Linked DNA regions of Homo sapiens. The protein of the gene in region 1 purifies or fractionates together with the protein of each later gene. This does not show direct contact. Each region holds a gene or a part of one and is shown in the gene's direction. Other genes may lie near its edges.

Evidence for each region.
Region 2: the proteins of TBRG1 (region 1) and GRTP1 purify together in Homo sapiens (affinity purification with mass spectrometry; one large-scale study listed by BioGRID and IntAct). This does not show direct contact.

What each region holds. Positions count from the first base shown.
Region 1 is NC_000011.10:124,631,890-124,636,426, forward strand, and holds the end of TBRG1 (transforming growth factor beta regulator 1), read left to right. Parts: intron 1-203; coding exon 204-349; 3' UTR 350-4,037; downstream 4,038-4,537. UniProt on the Homo sapiens protein: Acts as a growth inhibitor. Can activate p53/TP53, causes G1 arrest and collaborates with CDKN2A to restrict proliferation, but does not require either protein to inhibit DNA synthesis. Redistributes CDKN2A into the nucleoplasm.
Region 2 is NC_000013.11:113,360,748-113,365,829, reverse strand, and holds the start of GRTP1 (growth hormone-regulated TBC protein 1), read left to right. Parts: upstream 1-1,699; 5' UTR 1,700-1,778; coding exon 1,779-1,810; intron 1,811-1,919; coding exon 1,920-2,068; intron 2,069-3,961; exon of another isoform or gene 3,962-4,271; intron 4,272-5,082. UniProt on the Homo sapiens protein: May act as a GTPase-activating protein for Rab family protein(s).

The sequences.
Region 1 (4,537 bases):
TACTATATAACCCTAGGCAAGTCACTTAATGTTTCAACCAGTTTTCATTGTAAAAGTATCTGTCCTATCTTAACAAAGGCAAAATTGAGCTGACAAATGCAAGGGTGTTAAGGAATTGATTGAAAGGACATGTATATGTCTGACCAAAACAGTCTGCCCAGACTCCCGAGCAGCAGTGGAACTTAAGGAATTGTTTTCTCCAGGATCCTTGGACCTCCCAGAGCTTCAGCCTGCAGCCTTTGTGTCTTCTTACCAGCCCATGTACCTGACACATGAACCCTTGGTAGATACTCACCTGCAGCACTTGAAGTCTCCATCACAGGGTAGCCCAATTCAGTCTTCAGATTGAACAAGAAGGGATCAGATGCCACATCGTTTTTGTCGTGATTAATTTAACTTAAACTAAAATTTTGGGTATATGAAAGAAGGCAGCAATTCAGAAGTAAAGAAGATACTAACGTATTTCATCATGGAAGGTCCTGTGGTGATGGTTTTCCCTGGGAAAACCTTCAGCTGCTTTATTTTTAGTAATAAATTTCTCTTGTCAATTCTGTTTACTTTCATCTTGTAATCGGGATGTAATCTTTTTTGCTTAGCTCTGCCTGAGGTAAAGTAAACTTCAGCCTCTTATAAACAAGAGTGATAGAGAGCTGCAGGCTGCTACAACAAATACCATAGACAGGTTGGTTTATAAATAACATGAATTTATTTCTCACAGTTCTGGATGCTGGGAAGTCCAAGTTCAAGGAGCGCAGATTCAATGTCTGGTGAGGGCCCACTTCCTAGTTCTTAGACAGCTGTCTTCCTGCAGTGTCCTCACGTGGTAGAAGAGGAAGGCAGCTCTCCGGGGTCCCTTTTATAAGATCACTAAGCCGGTTCATGAGAGGTCTGCTCTCATGACCTAATCACCTCCCAAAGGCCCCACCTCCCAATACCATCACATTAGGGGTTAGGATTTAACATGAATTTTGGGGACATATAAACATTAAGTCTGTAGTAGCAGCAGCTGACTAACGAGGGAGATAGGGAGATTCTGACAAACTTCTACTCTTGATTGTGATCCTAATTCAAGGAATATCAAGTCCCAGCCCCTGCAACCCAGGCTGCTGCTTAATTTTCATGTCAGTATCATCAAAATCCAATGTTCTGCTTAAACTCAAGATGGAAAGTCCAGTCCAAGGTACACTGTTCATCTTTTTCTTCACATTTTGCACATCCTTCAAGGGGATCTTTAACCTCTTTAACCTTTGTATTGCACCTCAGATAATGTGCTTTTTAGCTCAGTACACTGAAACCATATGATAACACAAATTCACATATAATTGGGGGTTAGTCCCATACTCTATAACAGACTTAGTCCTGTCTTTTCATTAGCCATGTAATAATATAACTCCATGTTCCATGCAACTGGATTTTTGGACCCTGTTAATAGCATTAAGGTAGAGGTTTACTCTATCACCTAACACCTCAACACTACCTGTGGGATGCCTTAGTTACCCAGCAGCAGGTTACCAAGGGCTGTCTGGAAAGGGAGGGACAAAAGGACCCAGAAGTAGAAGAATGGGGATGGAGTGGTGAGAATTGAATGGTTAATGCACTGCCATTCATAATTGCCAATTGAGGACAACACAAATGGGATTGGTACTTTATAGTAATAAATCTGACCAGCAGAGGGAGGGATCAGGCAGCAGTGTTTAGAGCACACCACACTGGCCACTGTAAACTGAGAAGCTAAGTTAACTGGTATTTTATGATTTTGAGTATAGTCTTTTTATAAGTTGTATACACTTTACAATGTAAAAGAAACAAACTTTGTATAATAGCAAATCGGGAAGGGGACTGCTTAAAATGTTAATGCAGTGTTTTTCTTTTTTTCTCTGCATAAATGGCTTGAGCATACTGGCATTTACACAGAAATGATATATGCTGCTTTTATCATATAACAAATATTTTCCCACTATTACAGCCTGAGTAATACCCGTATTAAAAGAGCCTCATTTTAGAAAGACATTTAAAATTTTTGGAACATACCACATGTAGAAAGGTTGAACTGGTTTTTCAGCTATAATGCATATACAACTATAGTGTGTACGTATACCACATATACATATACTTGTATGAAGATATGTGTAAAATGTTTTTACTATGGATCATGGATTTAAGAAACTTGAAAAGCTGGGCACGGTGGCTCACGCCTGTAATCCCAGCACTTTGGGAGGCTGAGGCGGGTGGATCAAGAGGTCAGGAGATCGAGACCATCCTGGCTAAGTCGGTCTCTAATAAAAATACAAAAAATTAGCCAGGCGTGGTGGCACGCGCCTGTAGTCCCAGCTACTCGGGAGGCTGAGGCAGGAAGAATCGCTTGAACCCGGGAGGCAGAGGTTGCAGTGAGCCGAGACCGCGCCACTGCACTCCAGCCTGGGCAACAGAGCAAAACTCCAACTCAAAAACAAAAACAAAAACACCTTGAAAAACACTGCCTTAGTATACTTAAACTATCTTTTCATCTATCAGATTGTTAAGGATTTTTTTTAAATTTGACAACATCCAGTGTCAATGAGGGTGAGGGCAAAAAAAGGACTACCTTGGTGAGAATGTAAGTTGTTTAATCCTTTGGGAGGGTTAAGCTGTAGATATCTAAATTTTAAATATATATTTATCCTCTTCCATGTTAAGAACCCTAAGAAATAACTGGACGAGTGTGGTATGATGTTTGCATGTGATATTCATTACAGTATTATTTTAATAGTAGAAAATTGTTAAAAATCTATATGTCCATTAATAGGAAATTGGTTAAATAAAATGAGGCTTCCACAAACTGAAACACTCTAAATCTATATTCTATTATTTACATAAGAAAATTATTTTGGTAAAGTAAGTAAGTCAAAAACACAGATTACAAAATAATATGTACTGTATAAAATTATATAACTCAAGTCAAGTGAATGGTTCAGCAAAATAGTGTTTCTCTGAATGATGAATTTGGGGGTGATTTTTACTTGCTTATACTTTAGTGTCCAAATTTTCTACAGTGACTATAAATTTCATTTTAAAACTAAAAAGTTCTTACATTTGGGGAAATGCAGTGAATTCCCACATCATGTTTTAAATTACTCAGCCACTAAAAATGAATGTGCATGGCGTCATTAACATAATCATTGCCTGAACCGTATTTTTCACACTATGTACTCTAGGTTCCTGGAGGTGAAAGGAATCTGGACTTAGAGTTCTTGGCTACCTCTGGCTGCCCCCGAATTAGAACAGCCCATGGGGGTATGTGTATTGGGAGTGGAGGAGTGGACGGGTAGATTGACTTTTTCTCAGGCATCAATCTGTTACAAGGTTCATGGTTTCTATGGGGCCAGATGCATGAGAGGTCAAAGCATGGGCAATAGGGGTTAACTGAACGAGTTGAATGCTAGGAAGTCCTCAGGGGAGCCAACGTTCCTTGTAAAGTGTGTAGATTTTTTGTTTTTTAACTAAATAAAATCTTGGCACTGACAAAGTTATTCCTGCTGTTTGGAGCTACACCAGAACCCCTTGGAACTCTACAGAGGGGTAGAACTAAAGCAAAAACCATCATTCACCCTACAGAGTATTATAAATTTCATTTTCACACAGTAAAAAGTTCCTAAATTGGGGGAAACATAGTGAATTCCACATAATGTTTTAAATTATTCAGCCACTAAAAATAAATTTACATATGATTTCATTAATATATTCACTATCTAAACCATATTTTTTACACTACGTAAAATACATTGTATATGTACAGTGAGTGATGCTTTTTGCTTTAGTTCTCATTTTTCACATTAAGGGGAGGAAAGCTACCCATAGATAGTATTCTTACTCCTTTTCACATGCTTCAAGGACAGTTTGCAAGTGGATATAAATACATACACATCACTAGTGATTATGCTTTTATTTATTTCCAACTTCTTATAGGTAACATAATTTTCAGACAATGTTAGCTGTTTTTAATCCATCAGTAAACTGCATTAAGATTCTTAATAAACAAACACTGAAGGCCTCTTTCATATTTGTATCATCTGCATTTTTTTTTATATGCTTGTCATGTGGCTTTACTTTCAGCCTCACTCTTTTCTTCTTCCAAATGGATTATCCTTAAACCTTTTACCTTTAAAGAGCCTGAGATTTATATTTAACTCGAACAACAGTTTGCCTCTGTTGCCCCTGTGTTCATGTTTTCCTAAGCCAGAGTTTCCCACGCCTCCTGTTCCTGGCAGCCCAAGTGCCTTCGCTGGGCTACTCCCACCTGGCCCTTGCTTTTCATTCCTTAGGGCAGTCACTTAGCACCTTCCAAAGTGCCTGCACATGTTTCTTATTTCATTTCTTAAACATTCATATTACCACTATTTAGATTGAAGGAACAGAATTGGTTTGGGCTTGAAGAGAATACAAAGAGATCTGTCTTCAATTATCTGATAGTAGTAAAGTTTCACGGGAGAAAGAAAGATTTCGGTTCCACATAAGGAAAAACTTGGAAAGTTTTGAATGGAAAGTTCATAGAGAGATT
Region 2 (5,082 bases), on another chromosome or scaffold:
AGGGGAGCCGTGAGGCTTCCAGGCCTGGGGTTGGAACAGAAGCTGCGCGGTGTGGGGCGATTTGGGCGCAGGACCCCGGGTGCTGGGAAGTGGGGAGCAGGACTGTGTCTGTTGCTCCAGAAAGCGCGAGGGATGCGATATAGGAAATTCGGGCGTCAGTTAGAGCCCGAGAGGGGTTCAGGGAGTCACTGACTTAGGCAGAGAGGAGCCCAGACGGGGTTCGAAGACCCTGGGGACGGACGCCCACCTGTCAGTCCTGGACTGTGGGGCACCCGTAGGCCGAGGGGCAGGAGGCTATGGCCCTGTCTCCTGGCTTGGGTCTAAACATCCCAAGGAGGTCAGACCGTAGAGTGGGGGCTGTGTGATCTTTCAAATGAGGGACGCCGCGTGTTACCAAAGGCCAGTGCTGAGGAGCTGGGCTGAAAGCTTGGGGAGTTCCCAGAACCAGCAGACTAGGAACGGGAGGAACCGTGTCGGGGGCTCTGCTCCGCTGGGCACTGACCCCCACCCCGCCCCCCGGTCTTGCAAGGGCTGGAGAAGGGTGAAAGGCAGAGGCGGGAGTCCGCACTTAGGGACCGGTCCGTTCCACACGCTGCTGACCAGGCTCCTGGGTGGCGCTCGCATGGAACATTCCGGAAACACCCATGGGAAGGTCCCAAGTTGGTTCCGAAAGGCCCTGACGGACGCGCAGGGGACGCTGAGCCTGTGATCCTCGCCTCACCCAGACGAGGCCGGGCTGCTTCTCACAGGAAAGTGCGTCTGGAGTCCGGGGACGGCCTCCTCCTGGGGCCTGTCCAGGTCGCCCTGGGCCTAAATTACAGGCGGGGAGAGGCCTGTCGGAGGAGCCCCCGCTCCAGACCCCTGGGGGACCCAGGGCGAGGTCGCCCCAGCGCCTCACGTCTGGGGGCTCCCCTTTGCCACGTCGCCAGAGCAAAATTCAAAATCTGCAGTTCTGGCAAATTTCCGGGGCCTCCCGGACACGAAAAGCAGCTGAAATCTCAGGACAATGTCATTGGATGCGGACCGAGAAGAAGCCGTTCGGAACCAGAGCTGCCCCGGATTCTCCCAGGCCTGGCTCGCCGGTGGGGGGACCCCGGTCCCTGGTTTGGGGGGGCAGGAACGGGCGGGCGCCCCTGGGGGCTTCTCATTTGTGTGTTGGTCTCGGCCTTGAAATGCAGCGGAGAAAATAAAAAATAAAATAAAAATAGGAGTCAGGTGTCAGAGTCGGGTCGGCCAGGCACTGAGGTTTGAAGGAATCGCAGAAGAAGCTCCTCTCACCCGGGTCCAGGCCGCGGGGGTTCTGCGGGAGGCGCCCCCGATTCTGCCCGCGGGACGCCGCGGCCTCGGAAGCCCCGGGAGCAGGCCCCGCCCCGCCCCCACCCTCCTCTCTCCCCAAGTCCTCCCGCCCCCCCAGCCCCGCCCCTCCCCCGCCCTGGGTGCTCCCCTGCCCCTCCCCCGGCCCTCCCCCGCCCCTCACCCGCTCCTGCCCCTCCTCTCTCCCCAGGTCCTCCCGCCCCCAGCCCCGCCCCTCCCCCGCCCTGGGTGCTCCCCTGCCCCTCCCCCGCTCCTGCCCCTCCTCTCTCCCCAAGTCCTCCCCGCCCCCAGCCGCCCCTCCCCCCGCCCTGCCCCCCCCCGCCCCCGCCTCCAGCCCCGCCCCTCTCCGCTCCCCGCCCCGCCCCCACGCGCCCGCGGTCCCGCCGGAAGGACTTAAGCGCCCCGGAGCCGGGAGGCGAACTTGGGACCCGCTGGCCTCGCTCGGTGCGCGCCTCCCTCCCCGCATGCAGCCCGCCGAGCGCTCGCGGGTCCCCAGGTGTGTGGCGCGGGGTGCGGGCGTCCCCGGCGGCTGCGGTCCCCGCGCGGGCCCGCGACCCCCCAGAGGAAACTTCGGGGACGCCGGCCTCCTTCTCTCGGTTTTGCAGGATCGACCCGTACGGATTCGAGCGGCCTGAGGACTTCGACGACGCCGCCTACGAGAAGTTTTTCTCCAGCTACCTGGTCACGCTCACCCGCAGGGCGATCAAATGGTCCCGGCTGCTGCAGGGCGGGGGCGTCCCCAGGAGCCGGACAGGTGGGTCCCGGGGGCGCAGGTGGGTCCCGAGGGCGCAGGTGGGTTGGGCTGGGACGGGCCGGGCAAAGTCCGGGCTCCCGGAGCGGAGGGAGGGGGAGGAACCTTTCCGGGCAGGTCGGGACGAAGCTGCGGGCTCCGAGCTAGGGCAGCCGCAGGGACCGGTTTTCCCGCTTTGAGATGGGCCGGCGGGTCGGACGCGAAGGAGACCCGTCCCTCCCAGCAGGGAGCCATATCGGGATGGATCAAAACTCGATCCATGCCGGGCGCGGTGGCTCACGCCTGTAATCCCAGCGCTTTGGGAGGCCGAGGCGGGCGGATCACGAGGTCAGGAGTTTGAGACCAGCCTGACCAACATGGTGAAACCCCGTCTCTACTAAAAATACAAAATTAGCCGGGCGTGGTGGCTCCTGCCTGTAGTCCCAGCTACTCTGGAGGCTGAGGCAGGAGAATCGCTTGAACCCAGTAGGCGGAGGTTGCAGTGAGCCGAGATTGCGCCATTGCACTCCAGCCTGGGCGACAGAGCGAGACTCCGTCCTTGTGACGGGACCCACAGGGCCCTGCTCGACCTGCCGCTCCTCCGCGACCCCAGGCCTCCTACTGCTGCGGTGAGCACCGGCCTGACCGCCCGCCCGCCTCGGGGTTAGCTGCAGGGCCCCCTCCTCCGGGGCGCCCCAGGCTTCCCTGTGCGGAGGGCACCTCCTCATTTCTGCCTTTCCCAGCACAGCCCCTGCTGGAGTCAAAAACCCTTCCTCCCTGCAACGGATTTTTCATTCACTGCTCAGTCCTCAGAACCTGGGGCAGTGCCAGGCGACTTCCCTGTGTGTTCAGTGAATGAATGAAGTGTCTGCCTGGGGTGAGGGCTTGGTGGGAGTGTGCCCTGGAGCTAGGAACTCAGAGAAGTGGGGTCAAAGGGGAGTCCTGGGGGCTTCCTGAGAAGGGGGATGTGAATGGCAGCTGGGCTTCCAGGGACCGAGCAGTAGGGACCTGGTGGGGAAGGACAGAGATGAAACCAGGGGCCCTGCACCTGGGCGGAGGGTCGGAGGTGTGTGGTGACCACGGCCAGGCACAGAGAAGCCAACTGTTAAAGGTTTTCCAGGCAGGGGGTGACAAGATCAACTTTTGCTTTTATTTATTTATTTGAGACAGGGTATCCCTCTGAGTGCAGTGGCACAATCACCACTCACTGTAGCCTTGACCTCCTGGGCTCCAGCCATCCTCCCCTCTCAGCCTCCCGCATAGCTGGGACCACTGGTGTGGCCACCACTCCTGGCTAATTTTTAAATTTTTTATAGAGATGGAAGTTAATATCCTATATGCTTCCCACGAATGCATCATGTCCCATCCCTGTGGCCTCTGCATGTTCACATGTTTCCAGTGGAACGTGTGTCTTTATTTTTCCTTTTCATTTATTCTTTTTGATTTATTTATTTTTGAGACAGAGTCTCACTCTGTCGCCCAGGCTGGAGTGCAGTGGTGCGATCTCAGCTGACTGCAACCTCCACCTCCTGGGTTCAAGTGATTCTCCTGCCTCAGCCTCCTGAGTAGCTGGGATTACAGGTGCACACCACTACACCTGGCTAATTTATTTTTTATTTTCTTATTTTTTTTATTTTGAGACGGAGTCTCACTCTGTCGCCCAGGCTAGAGTGCAGTGGCATGATTTCAGCTCATTGCAACCTCTGCCTCCTGGGTTCAAGCGATTTTCCTGCCTCAGCCTCCCAAGTAGCTGGGATTACAGGCACCTACCACCACGCCAGGCTAATTTTTCTATTTTTTAGTAGAGATGGGTTTTACCATATTGGCCAGGCTGGTCTCAAACTCCTGACCTCAAGGGATCTGCCCACGTTGGCCTCCCAAAATGCTGGGATTACAGGCATGAGCCACTGCGCCTGATTTATTCTTAAAAGTTAACTGTCTTTTAATTTTAAAAAGTAACGTAAAAGTATATAAGACATGTGAACTTAAAAAGCATAATTTATGTACATGGTAAACACTTTAATCATACTGAGGGCTACAAAGTGCAACAGGGAGTTTCTCTCCCACCCATGGCCCCCATCTCCTATAGAGATGACCGCAGGGGACTGTCCTTCCGTCCCCCTCAGGAGCAGAAGTCCACGCTTGGTTCTGCAGTTTGCTTTAAGAGCAGGGGAAGTCCGTGGGAAGTCCTGTGGCTGTGACCTGGAGGTTGGTTACAGCGGAGAATCTGAAAGATGTATGGTTGTGCATAAATTTTTGTTTTTACAGAAAACACAACTGCACAGTCATTCTCCCGTCTTTGCCTTTGCCATTTGGGTCTGTCCTATTGCTGTCCTTTTCTTCGACCAGGAGCTGCTAACTTGGGTTCCATATTTTCCTTTTTAGGGAACCACTCAGCACATTGCCCCCACTTTCCAATATGGACTTGGGAGGGGGTTCTGGGAAGAGCAGGGAAAAGGAAAAGAGCAATCCGGATGCAAAATCCTCCAGATTTTTATTCTTTTCCCCACTCCTTTGCAATTATTTTACACCTAAGTCAACAGTTTTGTTTTTGCTTTTTTTTTTTTTTTTTTTTAGCATTGGTCTCTATCAACTCTTTCTAAAAATTTCATTTTGTTTTTATTGAAGTAACAACTTTCTTCTTTTTGCTTTAATTTTTTTTTTTTTTTTTTTTTTGAGTCAAAGTCTAGCTCTGTCAGCCTGGCTGGAGGGTAGTGGCGCAATCTCGGCTCACTGCAACCTCTGCCTCCCAGGTTCAAGCAATTCTCCTGCCTCAGCCTCCTGAGTAACTGGGATTACAGGCACTCGCCACCATGCCCGGCTAATTTTTGTGTTTTTAGGAGAGATGGGTTTTGCCTTGTTGGCCAGGCTGGTCTCGAACTCCTGAGCTCCAGTGATCCGCCCACCTCAGCCTCCCAAAATGCTGGGATGACAGGCGTGAGCCACCATGCTGGGCTAATTTATGTAATGTTAAGTGGACCATGTAATTATGGTAGCAAGCATCACTGGCATAAATGGGTCTGTGAGCAAATATATCT